Homo sapiens: one gene and its partner. The protein of the gene in region 1 interacts with the protein of each later gene in a biochemical or structural test. Each region holds a gene or a part of one and is shown in the gene's direction. Other genes may lie near its edges.

What was found.
Region 2: the proteins of NDRG1 (region 1) and GSK3B form a complex in vitro, tested with the Homo sapiens proteins (one study listed by BioGRID).

Annotation. Positions count from the first base shown.
Region 1 is NC_000008.11:133,241,623-133,245,440, reverse strand, and holds part of NDRG1 (protein NDRG1), read left to right. Parts: intron 1-1,050; coding exon 1,051-1,086; intron 1,087-3,366; coding exon 3,367-3,418; intron 3,419-3,818. UniProt on the Homo sapiens protein: Stress-responsive protein involved in hormone responses, cell growth, and differentiation. Acts as a tumor suppressor in many cell types. Necessary but not sufficient for p53/TP53-mediated caspase activation and apoptosis.
Region 2 is NC_000003.12:120,000,329-120,004,146, reverse strand, and holds part of GSK3B (glycogen synthase kinase-3 beta), read left to right. Parts: intron 1-1,907; coding exon 1,908-2,101; intron 2,102-3,818. UniProt on the Homo sapiens protein: Constitutively active protein kinase that acts as a negative regulator in the hormonal control of glucose homeostasis, Wnt signaling and regulation of transcription factors and microtubules, by phosphorylating and inactivating glycogen synthase (GYS1 or GYS2), EIF2B, CTNNB1/beta-catenin, APC, AXIN1, DPYSL2/CRMP2, JUN, NFATC1/NFATC, MAPT/TAU and MACF1.

The DNA of each region.
Region 1 (3,818 bases):
CTAATCCAATATGACCTCATCTTAACTTGATTTTACCTGCAAAGACCCTATTTCCAAGTATAGCCACAGTGATAGGTACTGGGGTTAGGACTTCAGTATGTCTATTTTGGGGACACAATTCAACCACAACCTACAGCAAAGGGTAGGTGGCCTGACTGAGGTGGGGTGGCCGATTTGATGGTAGATCCAGAAACAGAACTCACTTAGGCCTGATTCTGGAGACTTCCACAGCGTCAGTCTAATGTGCTGAGTGCCCCGCCTGGAGGAAAAATTCGGGCATCCTGCTCCCTGCGTGCTGGTTGAGCTGAGGGCTGCCCCAGGTCAGTGTCGCTTTGTGGCTAGTGTTGGGGGTCCAGACTTGAGGCGCCCTGGGCTGTAGGATGCCCACAGCCTCACCACTCCCATGAACTCCTCCAGCCCCGTTTCACCCCAGGCCACCCTCCCCGCAGCCTCCCCCTGCTCCCTTGCCGTCAGCGCTGCCCATTTCCAGGCTGGCTGCACAGTCTCACAGCCTGCAATGGCCTCTTGCGGTTCGGTGATTTCACAGGGACTTTGAACGTCCACCATTTAGGAAGGGTACTGGTCAGCTGAATCCGGCCTGAAGACCCAAATTCAACCACTTCCTTTTGAGGGAAACTTTCAAGGGAATATATGAAGAGGGTCTTGTTTATCAAACCCTTTCGGGTCAGAGAGATCCTGGCCTGGAACCTTGCGAGTCCCTCAAGCTCTTCCTGGCCCAGTTTCTGCCTGTAAAATGGGACAGCTGTACCTTCCATGGTTCTTGGGGAATGGAGTGAAATTATCTGTAGGGCCTAGCATAGTGCCTGGCACGTAGCAAGCTGCAAGTGATGGTTGCCACGGAGACACCAGCAGCCTTGCCTGGTGGGGCTGGAGTGTTCCCTACCCACGGTCCACCCTGTTCCTCCTTTGTAAGGCAGGACAAGGCAGGGCAGGGCAGCGGGCGGATGGGCATCCTTTCGGAAAAAATTCATAGAGCGCAGAGGGCCTTGGCTGTGGTGTTTGGCACTAACGAGCTTCCCTCTCTCCTAGATGGCGGACTGTGGCGGCCTCCCGCAGATCTCCCAGGTGAGTGCCATGTTGGCTTTTGCATTATACAGCTGTCGCTTCCCCCTGGGTGGAGTGCATGTGCCTCTGTGACACCTGTTCCCTCATTACCTTGCTGTGACATCGGATGACAGTTTGTGGACTGTTGGGAAAAGGTGCTATATAGGAGGACTCTGATTCCCTAGGAACCAACCCCTGTGGAGTAGGTGATACTGCGGTTCACAGAGGTTGGGGGATTTGCCAAGTAGACACACCTTGGTCATCATGGGTCAGAATCTGGGTATGTCTGCCCCAAAGACCACGGGCTTCTGCTGGAGTGAAGGGCCGCAAGGAGCTCCAGCCCAGAGCAGAGGGACATGGAGGAGATTAAGCCAAATTGTGTGTGTGTGCATGCATGTTTCTGTGTGTGCATGTGTACACGTCTGTGTGTGTGCATGTGTACACATGTCTGTGTGCATGTGTAAATGTGTGTGCACATGTACAAATAAACACATTGATCAACGTAATGTGTTTGCTACGTAACTGATCCCTTCAATTTCCCCTCCTATAAAGAATCTCACCAACCTAACAAGTAAACTTTTAATTTGTTGTCTTATAATTTTATATCCTGACAGTTTTGTGTTCCATCTTAAAATGAAATAGAGTTTTTTGTCATCTTTTTTATCCAAAACCTGCCCTGCCTCCTTTCTTCCTCCTTTTTTTCTTTCTCTACTTAAAATGAGAACAGATGTAACCCTGGTCATAATTAAAAGAATTTTCAGAGCTTCAGAGGAGTGCAACGAGCACAGGCTTCGAGGACACCAGCACAGGGGGGAGCAATTCCTGTGTGACACTGTCGTCCTCATGCCGTTGCAGGTTGGGTGTATGTTTACACAGGGTTTTCCCATCCTTGATTAAATTAGGTCCTTGCAATAGTCCTCAGAGGTGGGAAGAGCAAGCATTTTATCCCAGTGTCACAGAAGAGGAAACTGAGGCCAAAAGTTGAGAGAGATTGCCCATGATTACTGGAGCTAAAATTGGGCCCAAGTGTTCTCATTCCCAAGCGTGTATTCTTGGTTCTCTCCACCATCTCGAACACAGGCGTCCCTGTTCCCTGCAGCCCTGACCTGCTTCTCTTGTCTCTTTCTTCCACTGTCACACAAATTCCAGAGGGCAATTTGAGCATAGCCGCTCTTTTAAATGTCATTTGGCTCTTTGTGGAATCCTGGCAGGAGTTAGTGGAGAGCAGGGAGGGGGGTCAGCCCAGCCTCTACCAGTGCCCTCTCACTGCCTCAGGAGAATAGGACCCAGGGCACTGGATAGAACAGTTGGGATTAACTGAAGAACAGATACGCCTTGCACGTATGCCCTTGATATTTGAGCATTCACCTCCAAGTTTACATTAAATGAACTGAGAGAACTGGTAGAACTGGATGTGGTCTCAGCATTCCATACGCATTTCACTTAAAGTAGCCCAGTTAGTTGTTAATTAATTGGTTTGTTTACCCATCCAACGAACCATCCAACCATCATCCATTCATTCTTCTTCATATCCTTTCTTCCTTTTATTTGTCCTTCTTTTGTTCATATTTCTCTTTTTTTCTTCCTTTTGTCCATCAATTCTTTTTTTAATCCATCTTTCCTTCCTTCCTTCCTTCTCTTCCTTTCTTTCTTTTTTCCTTCCTTCTTTCCATCCATCCTTTTCTTTCCACCCATCCATCTATCCATCATCCCTTCTTTCAGCCAGCCTGCTATTGAGGCTGACAGTGATTTGCCTCAAGAACAAGTGTTTTAGGTTTGGAGAGCCCTGGGTTAATGTACAGGACCCACCACTTACTTGTTGTGGGACCCTGAGTGGATTTACCTGTCCAAATCTGTTCAGCTATGAAATGTATCTAAGGTAGCACTGACCTCGTGAGGGGTTGTCAGGAGTAAATGAATGAACGCAGCAAAGCCCCTTGCATTGGGAGTGGCTCATGATGCCGATGCAGTTATGTTCCACTTGCTGGGTTAGACATGTCCCTTTGTGGATGGTAATCTCCTCAGAAACACACAGAAATAGCTGTGATACTCTGCCCTGTATTACAGGTGAGGAAACTGGCTCAGACAGGTCATGTAACTTGTCCAAGTTCCACAGCTGTGGGGTGAATTTCCCATCATTGTCCCATACTCTTACTTTTGTGTTTTGTCCTGTCAACACGTGATGGCTTTTGTCTTGAGCCAAACTCTCAAATGAAGGTGACCACAGGCACAGCCCCCCATGGCCTCGGGTGATCTGGCTCCCCAGCAACTGACTGCATTTTCTCTCCTTGTCTCTCGCAGCCGGCCAAGCTCGCTGAGGCCTTCAAGTACTTCGTGCAGGGCATGGGATACAGTGAGTATGGCATTCCCCGTGTGCAGTGGGTCGGGGCATGTGTCGGAATTGGAAGTGCTCTGTCCTGAGCCAGGTTTGGATGAGCAATTCTGTGTCCCCCTGGCCAGCTTCAGCTTTCTGGGAGGAAACAGTTAGGTGTGTGGAGGGCATGTGGCAGCCTGGAGGATCTAGCCTCTCATTTATCAGTGAGGCTCATTTTTCCTCCTTTGTTGAATAGAAGTTGTTTCACACCAGGGATTTTGGGGGGTTTAGATGAGGACTGTCCCTTTAAGCACCAAGACAATGACCAACAGTGAAACAATAACATTTTTAAAAATTTTGATCACAAGTTTTAAGAGACCACTAGCTACAGTGATGATGAAGATGGTGTCGATGATGATGAAAGATTACTAACACATTA
Region 2 (3,818 bases), on another chromosome or scaffold:
TGGCAGCGAACAAGGCTGTGTGGGCGTGGGACCCGCCGAGTCAGGCATGGGAGGGGATCTTCTGGTCTGCCTGTTGCGAAGAGCATTGGGAAAGTGCAGTATTTGGGCAGGAGTGTATCGCTCCTCCAGGTACAGCCACTCATGCCTTCCCTTGGGTAGGAAAGGGAAATCCCCCAACCCTTTGCACTTCCCAGGTGAGGCAATGCCCCACCCTGCTTCGGCTCGCCCTCCATGGGCTGCACCTGCTGTCCAACCAGTCCCAGTGAGATGAACCAGGTACCTAAGTTGGAAATGCAGAAATCACCTGTGTTCTGCAAAGATCTTCCTGGGAGTTGTAGACCAGAACTGTTCCTATTCAGCCATCTTGGAAGCGACCATGAATGCCATCTTACAAATGAAAGTGTTAATTGGTCACAGACATTCACTGGCTTTTGTGTATATTAATACTTCTGTGAATTTAAATGGATATAAATATTGGTTATAATATTCCACTAGTGCATTTGGATATTCATTTATCTAGCAATTTATATTTCACAGAGAAAAATACTCATAAATATTATATTACTTTTCTTTTATTAGGTTAATTGGAATTCAGTTAGTATTTTAGAAAGGAAATTGTAATGGAAGAATAACAGGAAAAAATAAAAGTCCAATAAGTGAGCCTAAGGACTTATATTGTACTGAGAATTGGTTTTAGATTTGTCAGGGAAGAGAGAAGAAACAGTAGACATTTTTGTGTACGTTGAAGTCACTAAAAGAACAATGTAAAGCTCTTTTAGATCAGATACTAGGTAGCATAATACACAGAATCGATTAAGAATTCAGAAAACAAGATGGTGACTGTGGACTATCCCTAGTGAAGTAGGAGGTGGCTCTTGTGCCTGAATTGAAGAGAGCCGTTGGATTGCTACTGGGGTGAGAGAAGGCAAAAAAGGAAAGAAGAGGTCTGTGAGTGAATAGAGACCCTGGAGCCAGTGATATGCTTATATAATTGGGCCTCAGTTCAGAATGGGTTGGATTATTTAAATTTTTATATCTGTTAACCCCAAATTAACATTCTTTTCTCCACCTGAGCTTTCTCTGAGAGGTCTTCTACTTTGCTAAAAAGAAGATTCAGGGAAGCAAACACTCAAAGCCTTACTTTCCTAAATGCAGAAGGATCTGAAGAGAGAAGTTTTAAACATTTTTATTTGCACATATTTTATTTTCAAGTAAAATAAGGTCTTGAAGAAAGCCCTAAGGCCTTTTAGAATTGGATGGATAAGGTCAGACTCTTATGGGTTCACCTTTTGCTATTTGACCATGGGCAAATTTAACATTCTTCCTATTACCTATAATATGGGAACAGTACTGTCTACCTCATGGGGTTGAAACTAAGCATTGTGTCTGGTCTATAGAATGACTGAATACATGGGAGTTTAAAAAATGACTTATAATTGAAACAAGTAATTGAAGTAATTACATGTAATAAACTAAAAATAATTTGTAGTAAAGAATATAGTTTACTTTGACCAGGCGTGGTGGCTGATGCCTGTAATCCCAGCACTTTGGAGGCCAAGGAGGGCGGATCACCTGAGGTCAGGAGTTCAAGACCAGCCTGGCCAACATGGTGAAACCGCGTCTCTGCTAGAAATACAAAAATTAGCCAGACGTGGTGGCAGGTGCCTGTAATCCTAGCTACTCGGGAGGCTGAGGCAGGAGAATTGATTGAACCCGGCAGACGGAGGTTGCAGTGAGCCGAGATTGTGTGACTGCACAACAGCCTGGGTGACAAGAGTGAGACTCCATCTCAAAAAAAAAAATAAAATAAAAAATAAAGAATATAGTTTACCTTGTATATTTTGGCAGTTTTCTCTATTTAATTCCTTACAGTTCTCGTGAAAAAAAAATTTCCTTTCTTCCTTTAGGAGACAAGGACGGCAGCAAGGTGACAACAGTGGTGGCAACTCCTGGGCAGGGTCCAGACAGGCCACAAGAAGTCAGCTATACAGACACTAAAGTGATTGGAAATGGATCATTTGGTGTGGTATATCAAGCCAAACTTTGTGATTCAGGAGAACTGGTCGCCATCAAGAAAGTATTGCAGGACAAGAGATTTAAGGTAAAATGTCCAGTATTTCATATATTTTGTTGCTGTCGTAATACATATACCATAAATGATTATTTTTTTAGTTGCTTCTTTTTGCTTCAAATTTCTTCTATTGTGCGCATTTTTGTTCAGCTCAACCATTGTAGTGATTTTATTTCTAGTCATGTATTTTGTAGAGATAACATTCACTGAAGATTGCAGTATTACTTTTGTAGTCATTACAAATGACATATGTAATATATGTATTTTTTAATCCTGTGAAAGGTAAGTTAAAATTTCTTAATTTATACTATAAAAAGTGACCTGTCCTCACCGTTGTACTGTGTTGATGTAGACCAGAGGAACACTGCCTGTAGCATATAAGCATTTTATGTATTTGACTATGCTTCCTTTTTTCAAAAAATTTTTTTAATCCATGTTGCAACTTGTGTTAGTCTGTTTTTGCATCTCTATAAAGGAATACCTGATATTGAGTAATTTATAAAGAAAAGAGGTTTAATTGGCTCACAATTCTGCAAACTGTACAGGAAGTGTGGTGCAGACATCTGCTTCTAGTAATTGTCTCAGGAAACTTCTAATCATGGGCAGAAGGTGAAGGGCGAGTAGGTGCATCACATGGCAAGAGCTGAGCGAGAGCATGAAGGGGGAGATCCAGACTTTATTATTATTATTATTGTTATTACTATTTTGTAGAAACGGGGTTTTGCCATGTTGTCCAAGCTAGTCTCAATCTCCTGAGCTCAGGCAAGTCGCCTGTCTCAGCCTCCCAAAGTGCTGGGATTACAGGCGTGAGCCACCATGCCCGTCCCCAGACTCTCTTAAATAACCAGATCTCCTGTGAACTAACTGAGTGGGAACTCACTCATCAACAAGGGGATGGTGCTAACCCCATTCATGAGTGGTTGACCCCCTTGATCCAATACCTCCCACCAGGCTCTACCCCGTCTCTACTAAAAATACAAAAAATTAGCCGGGTATGGTGGCGGGCGCTTGTAGTCCCAGCTACTTGGGAGGCTGAAGTAGGAGAATGGCGTGAACCCGGGAGGCAGAGCTTGTAGTGAGCCGAGATCGCGCCACTGCACTCCAGCTTGGGGGACAGAGTGAGACTCTGTCTCAAAAAAAAAAAAAAAAAAAAAAAAGGAGATTACATTTCAACATGAGGTTTGGAAAGGGATAAACATCCAAACCATATTACAACACTATCCATTTTTCTCGTAACTTTTTTTTTTTTTTTTTGCTATCTTCCCTTTTTTTTCTTGTCCTTCTGCCTTTAGACACTAGCAATCCCAAAATTCAGTTCTCGTCATGTATTTTCATTTTCTGTACCTCATTAGGGGAGCCTATGCATGGAAGCTCAGATGTCATCTCTATGTTGTGGTATAGCAGAGAGAGTCAGAAGACACCGGGTGTAATTAAGCCTCTGTCACTATGCAGCGTTGCTCCCTTTACTACTCTTCCAACCTCTGCAACATTTTAGTGGGAGCCTCCAATGTACCAAGATCTATGGTAAACATGAAGGGATATAACAAGAAGAAGTGATCACTGTTCTGGTATAACACTAGTTATACCACATTCTAGTGTCCATCTGCTGTAAATATCTGGAACATTCTAAAGAATTTTTAAAAATTCAGTTGTTTTTGTTTTCAGTTCTCACCTCTCCCCCAAGTACTAGTCTCATGTTGTCAAATGCCCACTGGATCTTGATATCTGAATATTGTACTGTTATCTC